Linked DNA regions of Homo sapiens: regions 2 and 3 are each linked to region 1. The links come from fine-mapping of genetic effects on gene expression. A gene starts in region 1. Each other region holds a variant in brackets. All regions are shown on one strand. Distances are from middle to middle.

Region 1 (8,171 bases):
AGAGTTCTGGAACCAAATCTGAGGAGGTCATTCCAGCCAACGGAGCCTGAGAGTCCTGTCAAAAATAGTACCTGCCCTGCCTTGGTCTAGGGAAGCTGGAGCGTGGTAAGATCTGTGAGAAGGGAAACTGTGAGGAGTTTCTTGGATGGAAGAAATTATTATTTCACACAGTTTAGGCTATTCAAAAAATAAAGACATTGTGCCTGCTTAGGATGGGACTGGGGGGCTTGCACTGTGGCTGGAGAGACAGGAAACCGCCAAGGCAGTGGGGTAGGAAGGGTTAAGATGCAGGGAAGGCTTCCTGGGGAGACAACCCTTCCCTCCCCTTGCACCTCACAACTCTCCTCTGAAACAGACACCCTGTTCCCATTCTTCTCCCCTCCACCCTCCCCCCCACCATGTGATATCTGTCTCTCCTACCCCAACAATCTGAGGTCCAGACAGCAGACCCCAGCCTTCACTGCTTGGGTACCCCAGTACTCAGCCTGGGACCTGCCCAGGCAGAGTAGGGGCTCAGCAAACATTTGGGGGAATTACTGGATCAAAAGCAAGCCTTCCTCTCCCAGTCCCTCTGCTTCCCTCCCACCAAGGAAGAGGTATGTTTGGGGTAGGGGCCCAGCAGGATATGCACATTCCTGGCAAGAAGGGACCTACCTGCCTACAGCCAGAACGGAAGTTTTCGGCTCTAAAGGCAGAGGAAGGGGGCTGGGGGCGTCTAGGTGTGAGGAAGATCCCTACACAGAAAGGGACAGGAGCAGGTCCCTTTGCAAGTGGGACCCTTTGCAAATGCTCTGGCCCTGGCGTTCTCCAGCACTGGGGTCAGGTCTTTCTCTCTCCAGGGCTCAGGGGTTCCCCAACTCCGTAACTCCTGGGAAACCTGTCCAGGACAGGGAGAAGGACAGAAAACTCCACCCAGGCGCCCAGCCCTTGGTGCCAGGAGAGAAGGCTCCCATGGTCTCCCAAACTTAGTAGCAAGGCTGGAGCCAGGATAAAGTGGGTCCTGAGGGTCCCGTCCCGCAGGAGAGATTCAGCGCTCACCCTGGCCCTGGGTGTGGAGGCTGAGAGGGGGCAACCACAAAACCACCTCTTCCCCTTGCCACCTTGCCCCACTGACTAGAGTGTGAGTGACTCCCCCAACTCACAGTTTTTTGAGTTTCAGATCGAAAGGGCACCATGGGAGCCAACAAGCTGTCCAGGTACCAAGAGCAGAGCCCCAGTATCCTCCCTCCAGCCACCAGGTAACAGAGCCCCAAAACCCCGAGGCAAAAGTTTCTCAAGTTGAAAAAAAAAAAAAAAAAAAAAGGCCTTCAGACTTCCCCACAGCGGTTTTCCGCGGGGGCGGGCAGAGGTTTTCTGAGGCCGTGGCTCCCCTTCAGGCGGCTGGGTCCACTGGGCCTGGCCTTCGGCCCCTGCACCTACCGGCTGGTTCGCAGCAGGGGGAGGGGGTGGGGGAGAGCTCAAAATGCCCGGTGCCCGCAGGGCATGGCGGTCAGGGGGCCCTTCAGCCCTGGTTTTCTGTGGAAAGTGAGCTTCTGGGTTCGACAGTGGGACCGGCACAGACCTTCCCGCAGCTACAGGCCATACGACAACCCCGCTGCTCTTTCTTTCTGCGGGCACTCGGGCCAGTCCTAACAATTGCCCCTCAAGCTGTGTGTGCTGCCCTAACCCTCAATCCCGAACCCGAAACAGTGCGTGCTGGGACGAATCTAGGCAGGTCTCCGAAACCGGGGTGAAGATGCTGAAGTTCAGGTAAAAACCCGCATTGGCCAAAATGCTCCCGGGCTTTCTCGGGAGTCACCCGAATGGCAACTTCAGGCTCGGGTTTGGTTCTCCGGACTCCCCACCCCTATTCCCGGCTCCAGGCGCCGCGGTCAACCTGCGGGGAGACTAGACGTTGGGGTGCCAGACACGCGGTGATCTCCAGACGCCCGAAACGCCAGGCGCCGAGTGAGCGAGGAAACCAGCCGGGAGGGGGCTGGCCAGGGAAGCCGGGGAGCAAAGGAAAGAGCGGGGCGCGCTCTGGGCTCAGGGTTCCCATACCCTTTCCCCCCAACCTAGGATCGGGGTGGGACGCAGGTGTGTTCACGAGATCGCCCCAGTTGGGGGACACAGGGAATCCGCCGCCGTCTGGGCCTGTCTCAAAATCCGCATTCCGCGAAATTACCCGGTCCTTTATGGGGGCGGCCGGGACCCCAGGTCGCATTCTAGCGCCACTGGCTGTGCTCTGACGCAGCCCAAGGAAGTTTGTTTGGCGTGGATGAGGAGCCCGAGGCTGAAGCGCCGCCGGTCAGAGAGGTGCTGGGGTTGTCCAGGGGAGATACCAGACTCCTCAGTTGGGGCGGGGGGGGGTCCTGCTCGGTCACTCCGGGCTCCTTCCCTGGTGGCCTCCGGGCCCCCGTGGCCGCCCTCTCTTCCCCCCTTAAGTGGTGAAGCGGGAGCTCTCTCCACAGCGGGTGAGTAGAGGTGTCAGCCAGATCGTTTCCCCACCCTCCACCTCCGGCGCACAAATCACAGGGGCCATTTCCAGACGCTCTCAAGTCCCCAAGAAGTTTTCCGCTCTATCCCCGAGCTGACCGAGCGATGGAAAAGGGGCTGACTGGCCCTGGCACTTCCGAGGTGCGACCTCAGCAAGACAAGTCCCCTCTTCACCAGAGACGACACGGCGGGTAGGACCGCGATCCCCCGCTCTCTTGCCCCCATTTTCATCTGTCTCCGGCGCGTCCTGGGGAGTCCGGTACCGACTAGAGTTGGGGGGAGCCACTTCCCTTCCCAGCTCTGGAAAGTCTGGGCCGGGAAGTATTCTTTGTCTGACTCGGGGCGGGGAGGGGGTCGCGCCCCCGTACACCCCATTCCCAGAGGCCCGGCGGGGAGGGGGCGGGGCCCAGATTCTTGGGGAAGGGCGGGCCTCGGTGGCCTCTCCGGCCGCCCCCCTCCCCGCCCCGGCCTCCGGCTGCCCCCACTCCCGCCGCGCCACAGCCCCCACCTGTTCCCGAGGCAGCTCCGGCCCGCTGGGGCCCGGGCCAGGGGCGGAATGTCGCGGCTGCGCGGGGTCAGTGCGCCACGGCCGGCCCTGGCTGGAACAAAGTGCGCCGGCCCGGGCCCGGCTCCTCCTGGCGCCCGGCGCCCAGCGCGTCTCGGGCGGGCAGTTTGCAAACACAAAGTGAGCCAGCGAGCGGGCGAGAGAGTGCGCGAGCGAGGGAGTTGGTCTGGTCGCCCGCCCAGCCCCCACCCACGTCCCTGGGCCCGACCCGCCACCTACCTGTCCCGCCCGGCCGCTCCGTGCGGGCTCCGGCCCGTCAGCCCGCGCGGGGCATGGGGCTCGCTCCGGTCGCAGCCCGGGCCCGCCGCCGCCCGCCGGGGCTGCCCTTCCGCGCCGCCCCGCGTCGCGCAGCTCCCGGGCGTCCTCCCAGCGCGCCGGGCCGACCGCCGCGCGCCTCAACCCCGCCGGGGCATGGCACTTTGTGGGCTGCTTGGCTCGCTCCGGCTCCGCTCTTCCTTCCCGGTCCTTCCGCGACGCTCGTCAGCTCGCTCCGGCTCCCGGGCTCCCGGACCCCGGCGTCCCCGCCCCCGGCCCAGCCCTGGTTCCGGCCCGGGCTCCTCCCCGCCGCGCCGCCGCCGCCTGCGCCGCGCCCTCCTCGCGGGCTGGGGGCTCCGTCCCGGCCGCCGGCCGCCGGCCGCACTGTCCGGTCCGCAGGGACGGCGGGCTCCGGACTCCGAGGGGCTGCGACTGAGCCTGGGCTGCGAGTGGCTGCGAGCGGGCGGCGCGCGGGCGGGGCGGGAGGGGGCGGGGGAGGAGGAGGGTGGAGAGGGAAGGAGGGAGCGCGCGGAGAGCGAGGGAGGAGGGAGCGAGAGAGCAAGCGGCGGAGGGAGGGGAGACCAACTTCTAGTGCTACCATAATTCGCCTAAAGCAGGTGCAGCAACTTTCACCCCGCCTGGCAGCCCGCTGAGAGCGAGAGAAAACCACGTGCACCAAACTTTAGGGGAGGAAAAATGGGAACGTGGGGAGAAGACGTGAGGCGGCAGATCTGAAAAAGATGGTAGGTGGAGGGACCCCAGGGATTCACCCTGGCCTCGGACTAATCCTATGGGGCGCTTGCAAACCCCGGCCATCCCCTGGAGTCTGAAGGTACGGCCAAGTCCTGATCCCACACGGTTCACTGGTTCCCGGCGGGCTGCGCTCGGCGCGGGGAGTGGCCGGGGGCCCAGAGACGGAGCCAGTGTCAGGCCCGGGCCCTGTCTGGCCTCCCTCCTGCTCCCCACTGCGTGGGGGCTGGGGGTGGGCTTCCTGAGCCGAGGGTAGAAGGTGGGGAGGCCCCTTCAGGGCTTTGTGAACGGTCACCCCCTGGCGCGCACTGCCTCCCTCTGCGGAAAGGGAATTTCCCGTAAAGTGCTCTGCGAACCAGTGAAGAAGGGGCCCAAGGCCAGAGCCATGCGGGCAAAGTGAAGTGCAAAGTTGAGGCAATTATCCGGACAAATTAGATTGTAAACAAAACCCCGCGTCTCTGAACATCGCTTTTGCCCAGGGGGACTGGAGGGATTGTGGTGGTGGCGGCGATGGTGTGTTTGGGTTGGGAGGGGGAGGTCTGGGTGAGGAAATGCCCACGGCCCAAGGGGGAGGGCTGTGTTGTTAGCAGACGCACCACTCAGAGTCCCGTGGAAATCTCAATACCCGTCCCCCTCCCCGCCCCACACACGCCGGAAACATCTCCCATCTGTCTGCATGTGTTGGGGGTGGGGAGAAGTGAAGGAGGCCTCAGGGGTCCTCATGAAGTACCCCAACCCAGCTCAGTGATGCCGGGTCCCCATGACCAAGGGAGGATCCTGTTGTGGGATCAGGACAAGAAGACAGTGGCTCTTGAAGCCTCTCCTGGCCCTAAATCCTCAGGCAGGTGGACAAGAGGCTGGCATAGTATGTGAGCCCCTGTGGAGTGGGAGCTGGAAGCCTGAGGTGTGGGGTCGGAGCTGCAAGGATTGATGCTTAGTTGCCTGGGGGGAGGGGATTTCTTGGCCGTTCCAGTGGTCCTTGAAAGAAAAGGGGACCTCAGAGAGGAGGCACCCTCTTGGGTTGTTTTTCATCACTTCTGTCCCTTTTCTGCAATGTTAGTGACACCTGCACAGGTCCACATTTTATGTATTTGCCTTTTTGGGCAGGTGGGACAGGCATACTTAGGTCCTGCTGGAGCGTTTTAGATTTCTAGGTGTGAAATTGTGCAGGGAAGACTCTAAGTGCCATTTATGTGGATATCTCAGTGTCCTTTCCAGTGTGGCAACTGAGATAACCATAGCCATAAGAATAAAATAACAGCTAACATCTGAGTCGTACCACCCACCAGCCATTTAATCTTCACAGTAACCCCAGGAGGGAGATATTTGTATTATCTCCATTTTATAGAAGAGGAAACTGAGGCACAAAGAGATCAAGTAACTTGCCCAGGCTTACACAGCTGCTGGTCAGTGATGAGCCAGATTCCAACTAGAGCCACTTCAGTGAGGACAAGAAAGAAGCTCATGGTGGTCTCTGAAGCGACACTGCCTGCTTGTGGGTTAGCTGAGGGGAAGGATATTCTGGGAGAAAGAAAGCCCTTGGTAGTACTATCTGATTTACCTTCTGTTGAGGCCCAGCTCTGGTGGAAATCATGGTGTGTGGACAGCCCTAGGCCAAGCCTGGAGTGGCAAGTCCTTGTGTCAGACCAGCTGGGCCAGTGACTATGTCCTCAGTTCTCCTTCCTATCCTTCTTGCAGCAAAGGCTGAGGGTGGGGTGAGAACTAGGGGCTTTGGAGACAAAAGAGAGAATTTCTGTAGGGGGGTATTGAATGAGGTGACCTCCGAGGGGCTTCTCCAGCCCTTTTCTGGCTGGTTCACTGAATGTTTTTCCCATCCCCTTCCTGCAGCAGCCCTTGTACCTTACACATGGGCTCACTTGCCCAGAGGGATTGCCCTGGGAAATGCTTCACTTTCAGTTCAGTTTACCCCTCATCTCCAGGCCAGTTCAGTTCCCAGCTCCCTGTGAGCTACAGTGGGGGCTCAAGGCATCAAAAGACCCTGTCTTGTCTTCACCTAAAGGGCATTTTAGCGAGGAAGACAAAGCCTCCCCAAAGAAAGATACAGAACAAATGCCCCGAAATCAAAGAAGCCAGTCCAAAGCCCTTCTTCCTGGTGCAAGAGCTTCGTTAAGAAGGTTGAAAAGAGTAGCCCTTGGCTCCAAAGTGGGAGTGACCGGGAGCAGGCAGGAGGGTCCTCTTTCTGTCCTTGTTCCTTCACAGGACTCAGGGCAGGTGCAGGTGCTTTGGCGGTGGCCGGAACCAAGGCTCATGGCTTGGCCCCTCCAGGGGGGCCATAGTTAAGAGCACAGGGGCTAGAGTCAGGCAGCCTTGGGTTGAACTTCAGCGTCTGTCACTTAACCAGTGTGTGACCCAGGCAAGTTACATGATGTTTGAGTCTCAGTTAACTCACTCATCACCTCACTCATCAATTGGGAGGTTGGGAGGCCTCCTTGGGTGTTTGGGAGGGAGGATGGGCAAAACTTCTAGCCTGGTAATGTGTTCCTCACATGCTTTCCATAATTACTTATTTTCCCCTTGATGAGCTCCAGGGTCCTCACTTAAAATGACGAATGCTGACCTCACAAAACTGCAAATCATGAGTTGCCACTTATTAAATGCTTGCCAGGCAGTCGAATAACGTGCTGTTCAGCTTATCACCCCAGCAATGGTGACTCTTCTGCAGGTGAAGCTAAGAGAGGTCAAATGACTTGCTCAGTTCACATAGCTAGGAAGTAGTGTGGCGAGGACTTGCTCCCAGGTCTCCTGCTTTGAAGCAGACGCCCTTTCCCAAGGTCAGCCGCCACCCTATTGTGGAGGTGAAGTGGGCTGATGGATGAGCTTGTTCCTAGCAGCAGGCCTGATACTCAGGAGTAGGTTGGGGTGGTAGTGGTGTGTACATCTAGAAACATTTGCTTCATTCCCATGGTCCCAACAAACCTAAGCCCAGACAGTTTATGTTTCTATTATTATTATTATTATTGAGACAGAGTCTCACTCTGTTGTCCAGGCTGGAGTGCAATGGCACAATCTCAGCTCACTGCAACCTCCGCCTTCTGAGTTGAAGCAATTCTCCTGCCTCAGCCTCCCGAGTAGCTGGGACTACAGGCTCATGCCACCATGCCCTGCTAATTTTTGTATTTTTAGTAGAGATGGGGTTTTGCCATATTGGCCAGGCTGGTCTCGAACTCCTGACCTCAAGTGATCTGCCCGCCTTGGCCTCCCAAAGTACTGGGATTACAGGCATGAGCCACTACACCTGGCCAAAAACTATTTTTTAGTTATTGAGGAATAAAACTTCATCAGCATAGGCCAGGTGTGGTGGCTCACGCCTGTAATCCCAGCACTTTGGGAGGCCGAGGCAGGTGGGTGGATTACCTGAGGTTGGGAGTTTGAGACCAGCCTGACCAACATGGAGAAACCCCATCTCTACTAAAAATACAAAATTAGCCAGGTGTGGTGGCACATGCCTGTAATCCCAGCTACTCAGGAGGCTGAGGCAGGAGAATCGCTTGAACATGGGAGGTGGAGCTTGCAGTGAGCTGAGATCGTGCCATTGCACTCTAGCCTGGGCAACAAGAGCGAAACTCTGTCTCAAAAAACAAAAAACAAAAATAAAACCCACTTTATCAGCATAATACAGTAACTCCACTCCACTCCACTCCTAAGTATATGCCAATAAAAATGCATATGTACATATGTTCACCAAAAGGCATACACCAGAATGCTAGGCCATCTACTCGCATGTGCTCACTATTCACAACAGCTGTCAACAATGGAATAGGTGACTAAACCACGGTCTTCTCATCCGTGGGCTAGTCCTTGGCAATGAGAATGAGCAAACCATTGCCACGAGCAACAACATGGAGGAATCTCACAAATCCAACGTTGAGCATAAAAGCCAGACACGAAAGAAAACACCGTTTGATTCCATTGATAGGAAATTCAAAACCCAATCCAATGAATTGATGGCATTAAAACTCAGGAGCATGGCTGTTTTAGGTGGGGGTGTGACGGAGGGGCACAAGGGGATTTCTGGGGGTCTTTTTGAATTTGGGAGTTGGTTACATGCATGTGTTCACTTTGTAAACATTAATTGAGCTATACATTTTATGCTTAAAAGTGAAAC
Region 2 (8,171 bases), 31 kb before region 1:
TGCCTCAGGATGGGCGCTCTGCAGCTAGCAGGCTCAGCAGGGCCCATGAGTCACCATCTGGAGAGTAGCTGGGCAGCTAAGTGCTAACTTAAGCCCTGGCAGTGTGAGCCCTGGGCCAAACGCCGGCAGCTGCCTCCAGCCCCTCCCTCAGGGACCCTGCACCCACCCATGAATACAGCGTGCTCGGCTGGACGGTCTGACTGGAAGGAACAGGGACAGTGCCTGACACACAGGAAGCTTATTTGAGGGCTGAGAGTGGGAACGAATGCAATTTGGTGCCAGGGTCAAGAACCCAAATTGTCTCTTGAGTATGGGGTCCCTGTGAGTGGGGGGCAATGTGGGGAGATCAGGCCAGAGTTTGGTTTGGCTTAAACTCTCCTGCAAATGACCAGAAGTCCTCAAACTAATCCTGGGCTGCAGCTGCAGCAAGGAAAGATAGCAGTGAGATATAAAGAAGAACTTCTGAAAATGCCAGATGGGGATGGACGAAGCCAAGGCCCCAGCCACCTTTGCCCCCATCATGTCCTCAACTCTCGGCCACCTGTGCTGCCTTCTATGATAGGTCTCTCCCTGGTGGGGTCCAGGCCTGGAAGGAGGGCCCCTCACTAGGCTGGAGCTGGAGACCTGACAATAGTTTTGGAAACTCTTCTGAAGCTGGCTCTGGAGGAGAGGGATGGTGAACGTGGCTGGGAGGTGCGTGGGCAGAAAATCCTGCTGGGGAGCAGAGCAGCGTTCTGTGGGGAGCCCTGGGAAAGGAGCTGCGCTTGATCTCCCTTCATTATCCACTGCACTCAGGCTCAAGATGCACTCTTCTGCTCGGGTGGGGAGCCCAGTCCTTGCTCTCCCCTATCCCCTCACCAATCTTGAGCTCATAGAAGAACATTTCAAGGCCCTGGGCCCTACTTCAGGACAAGGATCTGACCTCCTTGGAGATAATAAACTTAGGAATAGGGGCAGAAGGCAAGGAAGGTATTCAGGGTTGGAGAAGAAATAGAGGGATCAATATAGGTAGGGAATCCAGGCTCCTGGGGAAGCATGGCTCCATGGCCCCAAGAACCCCCATATCCCTGAGACCCTGAGAACCATCTGGCCTAGGCTTCTACACCAGGGAAATATTGGCATTATTACCAATATTGTGCCAAGCACAAGGGATCGTCACAATGCAGAGATTAAAAGTGTGAGTTCTACTGGCCGGGCACGATGGCTCACGCCTGTAATCCCAGCACTTTGGGAGGCAGAGGCGCGCAGATCACCTGAGGTTGGGGGTTTGAGACCAGCCTGACCAACATGGAGAAAACCTAAAAACACAACGCTACTAAAACCTACTAAAAATACAACCCTACTAAAAATACAAAATTAGCTGGGCTTGGTGGTGCATGCCTGTAATCCCAGCTACTTGGGAGACTGAGGCAGGAAAACTGCTTGAACCCGGGAGGCAGAGGTTGTGGTGAGCTGAAATCACGGCATTGCACTCCAGCCTGGGCAACAAGAGACTCCATCTCAAAAAAAAAAAAAAAAAAGTGTGAGTTCTGGAGCTATTGGGTTCAAATCCTCACTCTGTCTTTTATTTGTTGTATAACTTTGGACAACTTTCTTAACCTCTCTGGGCCTCAGTTTCCTCATCTGCAAGATGGGGCTAGAATAGCACCTCTCCCATAGGACTGTGAGGATAAATGAGATAGCTGTAAAGCGCTTAGTGTCTACACTTCATGGTAAGCACTCTGTATATGTCAGTTGTTAGTTTGGGATGTACTCAGTAAGTATTTGTTGAATGAATGAATGAATCAATCAATGAATTTTTGGAAGTAATGAGACAAGGAGAGAGAAGGCCTGAGAAAAACATCATTTTATCTGTCTTTCTGACTCTGAAACCTCTAGGCCTCTCTTATTTTGGAGGGAGGGAGTTTCCTAAGGAAGATTCCATAGTCTCCCTTCAGCTCTCAATTATTTCAGATCTGTGACCCTTAATCCCCAGCTGAGCAGTCCTTCTAGATGTCTTACCCCAGTCCCTCCCACTACCATCAAGCTCCTACCCTCCTACCCCTGGGTCAGCAGCCCCTTTCTGGTTTGGGGGAACGTTTGCTGTTGTCCAGCCTACTCCTTCCTGTTCTAAGCTGGGTCCAGGGCGGGCAGGATTCAGAGTGGAAGCCCAAGGACCACTTCAAACCCTGGGATTGTATGTGGGGATCATTAATTTAAAGAGGCCCAATCCTGACCAGCATGGGTATGAGAACCTTTTAGATCTCATTCTGATGAGATCTTTCTCTTCCTCTCTTTATTGACTTTCCAGATTGTGTCTTCCCCTCCTCCACCCCAGGCCACGCCCTGATCTTTGCCCAGCTCCTCCCCTTTGAGGGTTGTCTCCTTAGGGTCAAGAATTTTAAGAGGGTTACTGTTAAGGCTGCACATCTGTTGGGCACCTTGAACTTTTTCCAAACATAAACTTGTTTTACATAAAACTCAGACTTTGTCAGAGCACTGGAATCTCCACCCAGGACAAAGCCTGGTCCTGGGTCCTTCTCTGAGCACCCTGCACCCACCCCACCCTCCTCTTCACTTCCCTCAGCACCCAGCCCCAGACTCCAGAGCACCTCCAGCTCAGAACCAACCATACTCACCCTTCTTCCCTTAGATAAACTTCCTTTCAAAGCCTGGCTTAATCCCTTCCCCAATTCTGAGCCTCCCTCTGCTGGGGGAGGGGTGGGGGGAGCATGGATCCCGGGCTGCTGGGCAGAGGGGGAGGGGAGTGGCTGCCCGAGTAGTGACCCAACCCGGACTCAGACTGCAATTCTCCCAAGTTCTTTGTGACACAAAAGGTAAACAGAAGGCCTGGCTCCCCCACCCCCCGCCCACCCCCCACAGATCTCCCCTCCCCCAGCCAGCCAGATGGGCTGGCAAGCTGGAGGGAAGGGAGAAGGGGAAAAAAGGGCAGATTGTGCAAAGGAAAACAAAAGAGACAGAGAGACATCAAGAGACAGGAAGCATGGAGAGACTGCGAGAGAGCTGGTGGATGAGGGATAAGGGGGGAGGATAAGAGAAGGGGGGACTTGGTGACGTGACTGCAGCAACAGAGATGGCCTGGGAGGGGCTGAGCCCCAGACACAGGAACACAGAGGGACAGAGGGAGTGACCGACAGGGACGCAGAAACATGAGAAGTGACCAAGAGAGACCCTGAAGGGAAGAGGCAGGGGAGAACAAACAGTGAGAGAGGTACAAAGAGACAGGGAGAGCTGCAGACAAACTTTGAGTGACAGGGACAAAGAGGCTAAGCTAGCGGAAGGTCTGGCTGATCAGGTGGAGACGAGAGAAAGTGGGAAGCCTTTTTGCCCCACCCCTGCAGTGACTGTATTTCCTTTGAAAAGTTGCCCACTTTTTGGTGTTGGAACTGGCAAGAGCAGTTCTCCAACGGGTCCTTGCCCTCCCTCTGTGCCAGGCCCACACTCCAGCCCAACCCAGAGCCAGCGGGGTGCTCTCTTCCTCACCTGCACAGCAGAGGCAGACTGTTTGCTGTCATTGTTCCCTGGGGAGCTCAGGCCTGAGGCCTGCTGCAGCAGGAACTGCCGGGCCACTTGGAGAGCCTGCAAGACAGGGGCTGAGTCAGCAATGGCCTGGGAGGCTGGGTGGGATCCAGGGATTAGGGAGTGTTTGGGGCAGTAAGGAGAAGGAGATCAGGGTAAGGTGGAAGGTCTTGGGGGTGAGAGGGTCATGGGTCCATAAGGGCTTGGGGTAAGGGTAGTAGAAGTCACTGAGAAGAGCTGTTGGGGTTCAGGGATCAGAGCCTCTACAGACTCAGCCTGGGACCCAGTGAAGTTTTGTTAGGACTCAATGGGGACAGCAAATGGAAGGGCCCATGGTCAAAAAGGGACTCTTAGAGGAAAATAAAGGGGGTTGACTCAGGGCATTAGTAAATCAGTACTATTTGTTGAGCATCTACTATGGGTCAGGCACTGTACAGGCAAGAGCTTATTTAATCTTCCTCTGTAAGGCTGTAAGGTAGGGATTATTGCCCCATTTTGCAGATGAGGAAACGGAGTCTCCAGGAGGTTAAGTAACTTACCCAGGATCATACAGCTAGGCGGCATCAGAGCCAAGATTTGAGCCCAGGAAGCCTGGCTCCAAGGCCAACTGCCTTACTGGGTGGTCAGTCTGGGGGCTAAAAAGTAGCATTCACTGTGGAGCCAGAGCACACAGTTGGGAGGATGAGGGAAGAGCCCTGGGGTCAGTGGCACAAGGTCTGAGTACCGTGTGACTTTCTGAGTTCAAGGATTGTACATGCATGCTGCTGGAGGAATTAGATTAAGTTCTGAAAGGTATACTATCAGCAGAGATGCATGGACCATCGTGCTGTGGGCTTGGTGGCCACAGTGGCTTAGACTGAACTGAGCCAGAGGGGTCATACGAGTGGGAGGCATATGGAGATTGCTGGAGGAATCACTCCAGTGGGTCAGTGTGACAGTCAAGGAGTAGGAGGGGCCCGGAAGGTAAACTGATGGGCAGTGAGACGTCTGGTAGGAGTGAGGGGTCAGGAGGGCCCAGGAAATTATCTATGAGGCCAGTCAAGCCCTCTATGTCCTCACTATGCTTCAGTGGGAGGTTTGAAGGCAAGTTCTGAATCCACATTTCAGCAGCACAAAATTTATCTGCTTCCAGATTGCTCAAGACCCCCTTGGGAGCCAGTGCAGGTGTGTCTAAGCCCTTGACACAGGGCTCCAACCTTAGGCAGTCCTGGGTCTGAATCCCAGCTGTGCGGCCTGCCAGCTGCGACCTTGGGCAAGTTATTCCAGTTCTCTGCACTTCAGTCTCCTTATCTGCAAAACTGGGAAACTACCCATCTCCAAATTACTAGGGGGATTAAAGGACCAATGTTTGGCATCCAGTTGGCATTCGGGAAGTATTCACTCCCTTC[G/T]GCTCTCATTAATCTCTCCACAATTCTCCACTTCACCTCCTCCAGCCTCTCCCCAACATAGCCTCGTGCCCTGCGCACTTATTAGACGAAATGCGCCCGCCTGTGGCTCTCTCTCACATCTGTCCACACATACACTTGTTTTTTCTGTATGGGCCCCTATTCTCCTACCCCACCACAAGCACCTTCAAGGCAAAACCTTTTAAGGTGGGATATGGCTGCACCACCCATCATCGCTCAACAAGCAAAGAGAGTGACCACTGTGTACCAAGCATATACACACAACCACCTTCGCGTCCGTTCATCATCAGTGCAAACAGCCGAGCCTCCTGAGGCTTTAAATCTAGTTTACCCTAGGAGGGCAACTAAATATGCACTGGCCTATTGACGGGAAGGTGTCCTGCAGCAAACCTGGAGCTCAGATTGGTGTGCTCCTCACAGGCCACCCCCACCCCACCTCCTTCCCTGGATGTCACACCCAGAGAAGTGCCCTGGGCTTCCAGAGGGGGACAGGATGTTTCTCCTCTTCCAGATTCACTTCAGAAAGCAGAAATCTGACCTTTCTAAGTCAAAAGGCTCTGCGGAAAGAGGAGGAAGGGTGGGGGGGGGGGTTGCGGGTGAGGAAGGGCAGGGAGTCAGGTGGTCATTAGGAAGGAGCCCCTGCCTCTACTACCTTGCTTTTACAAACTCCTCCAGGTCTACTGACAAGTGCTCTTTGTCCTCCAAAGGTGGAGGTAGAGTAGGGTTGAGGGGGTACAGGGGTCAGAGGCCAGGGCACAAGGGTAGGGGAAGAAGATGGCTCAGAGAGGCTGGCCAGCCCAGGCGACCCAAAAGGGACACTGGTTGGGGTGGGGAGATGACACACTCCAGATCCCCGGGGGACAGGAGGGAACAGCAGGGAGGGGCTCCTGGGGGCAGTTGGGGGCAGAGCCCTGCTCAGTCTCCTGGGGTGGGGTGGGGGGTGGCCAGGGGAGTTGACTCCCCACTGACTCTCTTACTTTGTGGTCCCCTGGAGCATGAAATTACATGATTTACAGGAAAAAAATGGCAAGGCCTTGCAGTCTCATTCCTGAGACCTCCCCCTCCCTGTGACAGGCCCTTCCTCCCCCTACACCCCCTACCCACAACCCCTTTCCTTCTTCCTGCCAAGACCAGGCCAGATGAGAGCCAGGTAAGACCTTAGGTCTGGCCAAGGCTCCCCTCCCTCAGCTTCCCACCATTCCTTCTCATACATGGGTCCTCACTCACCACTCTTCTCACATCTATGAAGTACCTGCTGCGTGCCAGGGACCAGGCTAGGGGCTGGGGATACACAGAAACAGAATGTGGCCTCTGCCCCCCCAGGGCTCACAGCTCAGGTTCTGTGATGATAGCCTCTAATATAAAGAATGATAGCCAGGCGCAGTGGCTCATGCCTGTAATCCTAGCACTTTGGGAAGCCAAGGCAGGCGGATCATGAGGTCAGGAGATCAAGACAATCCTGGCTAACATGGTGAAACCCCGTCTCTACTAAAAATACAAAAAATTAGCCAGGCGTGGTGGTGGGAGCCCGCAGTGCCAGCTACTCCAGAGGCTGAGGCAGAATGATGGCGTGAACCCGGGAGGTGGAGCTTGCAGTGAGCCGAGGTGGCACCACTGCACTCCAGCCTGAGCAACAGAGCAAGACTCCATCTCAAAAAACAAAACAAAACAAAACACAAAACAAAACAAAACACGAATGATAAGAAACTAGTCAGCCTGAAGTGGGGGTGAGTGCCAGGGGTCAGAGAAGGCTTTCTTCTACCTGGGGAAGTCTCGGAAGGCTTCCCAGAGGTGGTGGCAGCACTAACTGGAGTCTCGCCATCTGAAGGGCGAGTTAACACGGTGAACGAGGAGGGTCACATCGACCACGCTGCTGCACCAGATGTGTTCACACTGCCTGCTGGCACTGCGGCCTGGAGATCACTGGACTGCCCACCTCAGAGAGACGTGGGAAATAATGGGTCCTAACTCCGGCAGATCCCCAGCCCCACTTTCTTTGAATATGCCAACCAGACTGGGGCCTCCTTGAAAGCACAGATGTTGTCAACTGTAGCTGTGAACCCCCATCTCCAACCACCAGCACACAGCAGACATGTGATACCCACTCACAAAACTCATTTTAGTCTAGGCTGAATACGGGAGGCTGGCACAGGCTGACACTAAACTTAACAGCTAACATTTGCCTTGCAGTTTTCAAAGCACTTTTTCAAACATTTAATTGAAGCTTCACAACATTGAGCTAGGTGGAGCAGGTATTGATATCCCTATTTTACAGACAAGGAAACTGAGGCCTGAAGTTCCACAGCTAGGAAGTGGCAGAGTCCAAACACCTCTGACTGCTCAGGGCTTACTCCACTGAGGGGTCTCCATGATCCCATGCACAGTCCAGCGAGGCCTTCAAATCTGCCTTCCCCCTAATCTGCATGTGTTCAGCCCTCCAGTGAGAAGGGGAAGTGAAGATGGTGGAGGTGGAGGAAGAAGACCAAGAAAGGAAACTCCAGGGGAAAACTGGGCTCAGTTTCCCTTCCCTAAGGGCAAGAGATACCCAAACACAGCCCTGGGTGAGAAAGGTGTTCAGATACCCACACCAGGAAGAAGCCATTATGGAAAACCTAGGGGAGGAGGAAGAGGGGGCTTAGGCAGAGTGGAAAACTGGGAGCCATTTGGCCTCTTGAACCTCATTTTTTTCCTCCTTCTACCCCTTGGACTGAAAACCAAATGTCCAGCTCTGTGGTTTGGGGATGATGTCCAGTTTTCCTCTAAGGGAGGTGTACTGTCCATTCATGCATGGACGTCAAGAGAGATCTGGATCCAAGTTCTGGCTCCACCGTATGCTGGGTAACCTTGGGCAAGTCACCATCTCTTTGAGCCTCCGTTTCTTCCTCTGCAAAACTGGAACAACCCCATACTTTCTTCATGGGGTTCCTGGGAACAGCATGTGGGACTGTGCACATGGAGTACTTAGCACACTGCCAGGCACCCAGTAGGTCCTGGACGAACGCTATTATGATGATTGATCTTTCACCAGCAGCTCCTGGTCACTTGCCTGGTGCCACCCAGAAGGCCTTGCTAACCAAACCCTCTTCCAGCCCAGCCCCCATTCCCCCTCAAGCTTAAGAACTCAGTCTCGCTAATGAAGCTGAACTCTCCTCCCCCCATCCCCCATTCAGAAGTCATTAGCAGGATCTCCGCAATTAGGAACAAATGGCTTATAACGGATGGCATCCAGGGAGGGCGGTTGGGATG
Region 3 (8,171 bases), 43 kb before region 1:
AGACTAGGTGAGGGGAGATGGGGGTGAAGAACTAGGAGGAACACACCACAGAGATGTGAAAGGCTGGGCTGGGCAAGGGCGGCAGGGTTAGAATATCAGGGGGGTGGCTTCAGGATGGTCACTGAGTAGTTTAAGGAAGTCACCTAAACCAGGTCACCTAACCTGACCTCAAGAGAAGAGAGAATTAGAAAATTGCAGCAGGGCATTACAGGTAAGACAGAAGGAAGGAAGGAAGGTAGGTGGCTTAGCAGTACTTTGCCCCCAAAAAGGAGGCTGTCTTATGGAAAGGAGGCTCTATATTACTACCCCTAAAGGCAAAAGATTAATATGCTTTATTAAACATTAGGTAATAATTATAATCATCCCTTATGTTTGTAGGACTCTATCATTTATAAAAACCTGGTATCTGAACTGACTTGGAGGTTGGAGACTGGACCAGGTGGTCCCAAGCAAGCCCTGCTGGCTCAGAAAGAGGGCAGGAATGTGGTTGGCAGAAAATGACATCACTCACAGCCAATTACAGCAGCTGTCCCAACAGCCTCCCAGCTTCTCTCCCAAGCTTTGGGAATTGGGTATGAGCATATGAAAGTCATGATGCAGTCCCTTCTGCTGCACTTAGCATAATCCCAGGGCAAAGGGTAGGCAGGCACTGTGCAGACCCCACCAAGTCCTGGGCGCTGGTGGGGAGGAGGGGTTCAGTAACACTTGTTGAAACCTAGTGGGATTGGGGGAGGTAGCCCGTTTAACTGCAGTTTCTTCAGTGGCCAGCAGGGGGACTCAAGAGCCAGGGATCCAATTAAGGTTCTGAGAGGGAGTCCTTCCCCGCGTCTAACCTTCCCTGCAGGGGCGAACACTCTCTCCTTCTTCCCCCCGCCCCGCCCACTCTCCCAATTTAGATATCACCTTCCCACCTTGAGACAGACAGACAGACACACACACACACCCCCCTTTTGGCTATAGAAAAATAAATGGCCTAGTACCCCAGCATCTGTCTCCCATTTTTCTAGAGTCCCCCTCTTGCCTGCTTCTGCTCTCCCAGGAAAACTTATGGCTGAAGGTGTTGAAATGACTAATTGGATGGAGACAATTATCTTCCTGCCAGGGATGGCAGAGCTGGGGAGGGCTGTGAGTGCCGTCAGTGCCCCAATGTGTGGTCCACGGCTCTTGGTCCATCCGTGTGTCTATACCTGCGCTTTCCTAGCCCCACCTCAGGCTTCAGAACATGTACCTTAAGCCAAGGTATCCAGACCCTTAGGGTCTCTGTGAAATTCGGCCCAGGCTTCTGTATCAAGCTTGGGCATTAGCAATTCCTAGAGGCCCTACCTCGTGGGGCTGGCGTCTTTGGGGCCCTTGGGGGTGTACCCTAGAGAAGGATTGCTTCCCAGAAAGGAGGCAGCACCAGGCTGGAAGGAAGGGATCATTAAAAGGTTATGGAACAATCCACAGCCCCTGCTGAGGTGGGCGTGGGCATGCAGCCCTGGCTGGGCCCTTGGGTGGCTGTTTCTGCAGGACTAATGGTTTAGGGAACTAATTGTTAGGCAGCCTTGGTCTCCATGGGATATGGCAGGTCCAAGGGTGACTGGGGCCCAGAAGGTGGAAGGGGCCTGCTTCACCTTCCAGGTGGCAGTGTTTCTGCGGAAATAGGCGAACATCCTGGTGAACCAGTTATAGATCTCATTCAGGGTCAGCTGCCTGTCAGGGGTTTCCAGGATGGCCTGCGGGGAAGGAACAAGCAAAGGGACCGTCAGCCTGGGCCTCGAAGGGTCACAGCCCTGGGTTCCCTCCCCCAGTACCTCTCCCTTCTGCCTAGCCCCGAGTTCACTTTGTGAGAAGACCTGCTCAGAAATGTGTGGATAACAAGATGGGTGGTGGCTGGTGGGTCCCCTCAGAGGGACAGGCTGGTTATAGCTTGGCCAAGGATAAAGAGGGCAGGAGCCTCCAAGGGCTATGTATTTGTACAAGAAGGATTGGAGCTGCTTCTGGAGAGAAAATGCCTTTAGTACCTGGCCCTGCACCGAGGGTGAAAGCAGTCAGTCCTGTCTTTCTTGGGAGAGATGTCCACGGGGTGGAGGCTGTTTGGAATTTATCCTGATTTTGGCAAAAGGTACCCTAAGCACAGTGTGTGTGTGACAGAAAGAATGTGTGTGAAGGTGTACATGCCTGTGTGGGTATCAGGGAGGACATATGTGTCGATGTAAGTTCATGCTTGAGTGTGAATACTATGTGAACATTGGTGACATGAAGATCATGGGCTTGAGGGAGGAAAGACAAAGGAGAGAGACGAAGAGTGACCCTGAGTCTATCATGGCGGGCTGTGTACGTGGAAATGAGCACATGAATGCCACGGTGGGTGTCAGTAAGAAGAACAGTGTGTGCACCCCCAGAGACACATAACCCTATGCAGCAGGCTGACAGGGCCCAGCCTGCAGGAGAGCCCCGCACAGCAGAGAGGGAAGACCGCCACGTGAGAGGGAGCGGGACAGCTCCATTGCTTGGCCCCAGGACCTTCCTGGAGGCAGGGGTGTGGCGGGGGCTGGGGGAGCAGCCTGTGTGCCATTCCCCACCCTCCTCCTACCTGCCCTGCTCACCTGGCGGATGAGGGAGGCGTAGGTGAAGGGGGGCCGGACGTCGGCGTTCTTGTAGAACTCATGATTCTGGGCCAGCTCTGGGGAGACAGGCAGAGGATGAGGTAGCCAGATATGGGGCTCAGATGGGAAAAACAGCCTCACGCTGCTGTCGCCCTGCAGCCCCCAGCCCACCCTCACCTGAGGAGATGGGGGAGCAGAACTTGTCACTGCTTCTCCGACGGGCTGGGCCCCCACCATGCAGGGAGGCAGAGCCCAGGCCAGGGGGCCGTAGAGGGGTGACAGGGGCTGCGGCCGAGGTCGGGGGGTGCACGAGACCATCTGGGAATGAGTCTGCTGCAGAGACGGTCACCTTGGAGAATGAGGAGGAGCCGGGGACCGGGTTCAGCTGTGAGCAACGGGGAGGGTACTGAGACCAGTGCCCGAGGGTGGGGGTCCCGAGGCTCCAGGGTCTGTGGAAGGCTCTGGGAGGGGCGGGGAGGGGAGCAGCACTCACTGGCTGGCTGAAGGGCTTGGGCTCCGAGGGCCGCATGTGCAGGTGGGCCATCATGGCCTGCAGCCGCTCGCTCTCCTTGGCGAGCTGTGGAGGGTGGCAAAGCAGGAGGTGAGCGGGAGGCTGAACCCTGGAGGCAGTGTTGTCCCACCCCTCCACCGCCAGGCTCTTCAGAAGGCCGCCGATTCCCACCCCCATTCGCCTCCTTGCCTCAGCATCCATGCTCCCTCTGTGACCCGCTCCAGGGAGGCCTCAGCAATGCTCTACCCCTCAAGGGCTGCCAGCTCCATGAAGCCTCTCCCTTTCTCCCCTGGATGGTGACCATTTGAGCCCTCCCAGTGCGTCCTGGCTGGAGCTTATCCCTGCCTCTACATGTTGGGAGGCTTCTTCCTACCCACCCACGGGGGGGCGGCCACTGTGCCTTGTGCAGTGGCACTTGTGTGTGAGGGCCTTGCATACTGAATGCAGATGCAGGAACTGATGAATGGCTCAGACACCCCATTCATAAACTCAATGGGTCTCTCATGACCACCCTCTCACAGCAGGATGCTCTGCTAGGTGCTGGAGGGAGATGGGTAAGCACAGAGGAGCTGCCCTGAGTTGCTTCCTGGGAACCCTGTGCTGCTGAGTGTCCCCTCTCAAGTAGCTGGGATACTCCCTTGGGAAAGCCAGGCTGCCTGGGTTCTAATCCCAGCTCTGCCACTCACAGGCAAGTTACTTTAGCTCTGTGTGCCTGTTTTCTCCATCTGGAAAATGGGGAGAATAATGGTACCCACCACATAAGGTTGTTGAGAGGATTCCTTGAGCTATATAAAGTATTTAGCACAGCACAAAGTAAGTGCTCCATATGTTAGCTGCTAATAATTATTTTTGATGTTTCTATGTAGCGTGAGTCTCTTCTGGACCTCCCAGCAGAGACGCCCCCAACCTTGGTTTACCCCTCAGAATCCAGCTGTCCTCACCTCACAACCATGGTCATTAGGACCTAGAAAGCATAAGATGGTGGCTTTGACCATAGGACCCTTCCATGAGACCCTCCCAACAGAGCCCACCTAGCAAGTCAGTGCTGTGGGTGGGCAGGGGCTGGAGCCCACCATGTCCCTCCCCAGCATCTTCCGGGCCACACCTGGATCTCCAGCTGCTGCACCACCTGCATCTGTACCCGGCACTGGGCTGTACTCCGGTCATCCAGGGCGTGCTCTGTGTTGAGGTGTCTTCAAGGGGAAGAGAGGAGGAGAGAAAGTTGGCTCCGGTTTCCCTGCTGCCACCATCCTCCCATCCTATCCTCTAATCCCACCCATGGCCTGAAAAGCAGACAGACCAAGAGATACAAAGAAGAGAAAGAGGTGGAAAAACGGGGCAATGGAGGAAGGCTTCTCCCTTCTCGTCAGCCTCCTTTGATGTCTTTGCTAAAATCCCAGCTACAGAGAGATCTAATTGCAAATGAACTAATTAAGTAAACCTCTGACGAAGCGTGAAAACAATTTGTTTGACCCTGATGCTGCAAGGGTCTGGGAGACAGCGGAGTTAATCAGTCAGTGACAGAGCCTGGCACGGCTGTGGCAGCTGGCCGCCTGCTGCCAGCCGCCCGTCCACCTCCC[G/A]CCCTGCCTGTCTGCGGCCCTCAGCCTGTCACTCGCCATCACTCCCCGGGGCTGAGGCTGGAGGGGAGCAGGGGAGGGTGGGGGGAGGAGTAATGCTTATGTTTGTCCTCTCCTTCTCCTACCCGCACCCTGCGCTGGGGATGGAGTCAGGGGAATGCAGGCCCAGAAATATAGACAGGGTAGGGAGTGGGTGATCAGGGAGTCCGTGGGGGGCAGAGAAAGAACTAGAACCCTCTGGAGTGAGGACAGTAGTACAGCTAGTGAGGAGGGCTCCCAGAAGGGGCAAGCTAGTGGGCAGGGTTGGGGGAGAGGCCCTGTGGGGAAAGGCTGCTGGGGGAGGGGCTGGGGGTGACACCTACTTGATAAACTGGCCCAGGTCTTCACACAGGGTCTCACAGCCTGGCCACTTGCACTCTCCGTGTCCGTACAGGGGGTGGGAGCCGGGGGTCTCCTCGTGGGAAGAGCTGGGAGGACAGCAGGGAGGTGGCCGATCAGGGACCCTGAAGACCCCAGCGGCCCTGTAGTCAGCTGAGCACCAGCTCCCCTGCTGGTGACATTTCTGCCCCAATACAGGTTTCCCAGCGGCCAAGCACCATCTGTACACCCCGGGAGAGGGAGTGGAGAGGGAGTGAACCTCCGGTCCGTGGGCTCCACCCCCTCCCTCACAGTCAGCCCTCATGGGTGGGGGGCCAGGTCTACCCCCAGGCAGGCCTTTGATGCCCCTCCCAGCCTGGACCCCTGTACCTGTCTCTCCGAGATGTGAGCACAGTAGGCTGTCCGTTGGGCAGGGTATGGTGGGAGAGGGGGGGTGAGACCTTGGGGGGAGCGGCAAACGAGGTAGCGGTGGCGGCCGTGCCAGTGAGGTCCAGCCCCTCCTGCTTGACGCTGTCCTCGGCAGGCTGCCCGGGGGCACCCTCGCCCTTCCACAGCTGGGGCAGGTCTGTTGGGCAAACAGCTGCTGTGGGAGAGACAGGGGAGGCTGGCAGGGCCCCACGAACACTCGGCTTTCTACCTGGCCCCAAGAACAGGGGCTGCCAGCTGTTGCGTACAGGCAGGGCTGTGGGGTTGGGGCTGGGAGGGGAGGAGTGGCGGGTGCTCACCTTGCGGAAGGGTCTGGAGGGGCCCCGAGGCTTGGTTGGGCTGCAGGCTGACCAGCCCCTGCCTCTGCAGGTTGAGCAGGTGCTGCTGCTGCAACTGTTGCATTTGCAGGAGCTGCTGCTGGAAGGCCAGCTGCTTGTTCCCCAGTGCCTGGTGAGGGGCCCGAGGGGGCGGGCAGAGAGGGGTGCCATCAGCTTCAGGCATGCCATCTGGCCCCCACCCCGCGGCCACCCCCTCCCAGGGCCTGTCAGCCCCTGGAGCTGTCGTTGTGGCGTCTGCAGCTGCAGTGTCTCTGCTCCCGGCCCAGCTTCCATAAGGCTGCATGCCTCCTCGCAGTAAACACACGCATGCACGCACGCACGCACGCGCGCAAACACACACAGCCAGACCCAGACACGCAGCACGACGCCCTCCCTCCTCCCGCCTCCCTCCTTCCGCTGCTTCAGCTCCCTGCACCGCAGCTGTGCACGCCTGGGGGTGCCTCATCACAATGATCGATGAGCCTGTCAGATTCTGGGGGCCACTCCTGCCTGGAGGGCACCCTTCCCACATGCCCGGGGTGCCCCCTTCTGCTCTGGGGAGGGAGTTTTCTCTCCCCCAGCTCTTTTCCTCTCTTGCTTTTTAGATACAGAGAATCAAGGAGTCTGACGGGACTCACTGGGACCCAGGCTCGGAGAACAGTCACATCACCACTGCCCAGGCGCCCTGTACTCGTTGGCTCACCCACTCTACCTACCCCCACCCATTCAGTTCTTCACACAGGCACTGACAAGTCAGGCTGTCAGCAAGTCTCTCTTGAGCCCCATGAGCCAAGCATGTCCTGGGTGGGTTGAGAGGCAGAGATGTCTCTGCCTGCCTGCTGGGGGTGGGAAGCATGGGGTAGGGTGGGGGCTGGCTATTCAATAGAGAGACACAGGATAAACTTAGCCTAGAGATTTACCTGCTGATAACACAGCAATTACAAGACTGCTGAGGGGGAGACTGGGGGTGCTGGAGAATTCCTGGGTGTCAGGGCAGCCTTCTGGGAAGAGGAAACTTAGAGCTTGGGGCTGCGGTTGGGCAGCAGGAGAGATGCACAGGTCTGGGACCCAGGGGAGAAGGGCCTCCAGGGCCTGGTATAGAAGCTCCGATGGGGTAGGGGATGTAGGCTGGGGAGCTCTGAGAGGAGACCGAGGGGTGGCTGGGCAAGTCATAAGAAGAAGGGGAAGAAGCTGGGGGCAGGCTGAGGTAAGGGGAGGTGGTTTGCTGAGGGACTCAGAGATTCGCAGGACAAGGAGGGGAGGGCTGAGGTGCTGGGTCACAAAGAGACAAGGGGGCAGGAAGATGGTGCGACCACAAGGCACATGAGCGTGGCCCGGCAGACACCACACACGGGGGTGACACGTACACACCTGTCTACACCCATGTGCACAGAGACAACAACACGAGGCAAGGAGAGAAAGAATGAATGGGGATGAGGGGAGATGGAGACACGTAAGAACCACCATCCCCATTTCCCCCACACTGATCCTTGGTCCCCTTCCTCAGCCTTTTCTAGATTTTTCTACTATTCCTGCAAGGCAATTCCCTCCTGACCAGCTCTGGACACCCAGCTCTGGGCAGGGGGTGAGGGCGGTGGTGGGCCCTGGTACAGCCCCTTACCTCTTTGGGCTGCGGTTTCCCAGCCTGCTGCTGGGTGAGGAGCTGCAGGTGGAGCTGCTCCTGCTGCTTCTTGTAGTACTCCTGTAGCTGGGGGGGTGGAGGAGGGTTACCACTGGCAGGGTACTGCTATCCCCACAACCCCAGCCCTGTCCCATCTGGGCTCCTGGGGGCAGGAGAAGGGAGTTTCCCTAAAACATGGTCTGGCTTTCCCCAGTCAGCCTGGAGGGGCCCTGAGCAGGGTCTGGGTGCGGAGGGAGGGAGCAAGGGATGGAGGAGTTTCATTCCCACAGCTCTGAACCCTCCCTGCTTTTGGTGGATCTCCTGAGCAGGTCACAGGGGACAACGTGCCAGAATGTTCCAGTACTTTGCCCTTCCCTGTTCAGGAGATAGAAGTGGGGCCAGCATGCAGGGAGGGAGGACCGGGGAGTATTGTGGGGGCAGGGCCACCATAAGAGATGCCTGACCTTTGACCTCTCCCCACTACCCTAGAGGAATGCAGATCAGTCTGGCCTGAGCAGTCTCTCTGGTTTCTGGGACAGCTTGGGCCCTTGGTGAGGTGTAAACAGGGTGGGAGGAGCCAGGCCAGGCAGAGGAGGAGGGACCAGCTGCCCTGGGGCCAGACTCACCTGCTGGAGCATGAGGGCTTGCTGCTGCTGGAGCAAGGCCTGCAGCTGCGGGGGCGACAGGATCTGCTGCATCTGTTGCGGGGTAAGCATCTGCGGCGACATCATGGCCACCGACACAGGCACCTGC

Direction of the effects. Positions count from the first base shown, and alleles are read on the strand shown. Sizes are in standard deviations (SD) of each study's normalised expression. Not every link is listed here.
For the expression in prefrontal cortex of the gene that starts at base 3,746 in region 1, A is the high allele of the variant in region 3 and G is the other (small effect, 0.31 SD a copy in ROSMAP).

What was found. PIP is the estimated chance that this variant, and not a neighbour inherited with it, causes the effect.
Region 2: its variant is fine-mapped to the expression of FOXP4 in esophagus mucosa (GTEx, PIP 0.99).
Region 3: its variant is fine-mapped to the expression of FOXP4 in prefrontal cortex (ROSMAP, PIP 0.92).

Annotation. Positions count from the first base shown.
Region 1 is chr6:41,541,956-41,550,126 of GRCh38, reverse strand. FOXP4 (forkhead box P4) reads right to left here and starts at 3,746. Exons shown (of 17, transcript NM_001012426.2): 1 at 3,260-3,746. FOXP4-AS1 (FOXP4 antisense RNA 1) reads left to right here and starts at 1,506. Exons shown (of 2, transcript NR_126415.1): 1 at 1,506-1,749. RefSeq lists silencers at 2,430-2,579, 2,870-3,049, 3,120-3,799, 4,130-4,399, 5,442-5,736 and an enhancer at 3,950-4,059.
Region 2 is chr6:41,573,394-41,581,564 of GRCh38, reverse strand. FOXP4 (forkhead box P4) reads right to left here. Exons shown (of 17, transcript NM_001012426.2): 3 at 3,484-3,579. Among named protein-coding and RNA genes, the nearest start is that of MIR4641, 21 kb to the left of the region's middle. RefSeq lists enhancers at 1-28, 1,942-2,564, 2,565-3,188. The variant G/T (reference allele first, on the strand shown) is at 4,908.
Region 3 is chr6:41,584,765-41,592,935 of GRCh38, reverse strand. FOXP4 (forkhead box P4) reads right to left here. Exons shown (of 17, transcript NM_001012426.2): 4 at 8,045-8,167; 5 at 7,419-7,505; 6 at 5,780-5,927; 7 at 5,424-5,637; 8 at 5,039-5,143; 9 at 4,205-4,292; 10 at 3,082-3,165; 11 at 2,766-2,973; 12 at 2,589-2,665; 13 at 1,614-1,715. Among named protein-coding and RNA genes, the nearest start is that of MIR4641, 9.9 kb to the left of the region's middle. RefSeq lists enhancers at 7,512-8,091, 8,092-8,171. The variant G/A (reference allele first, on the strand shown) is at 4,680.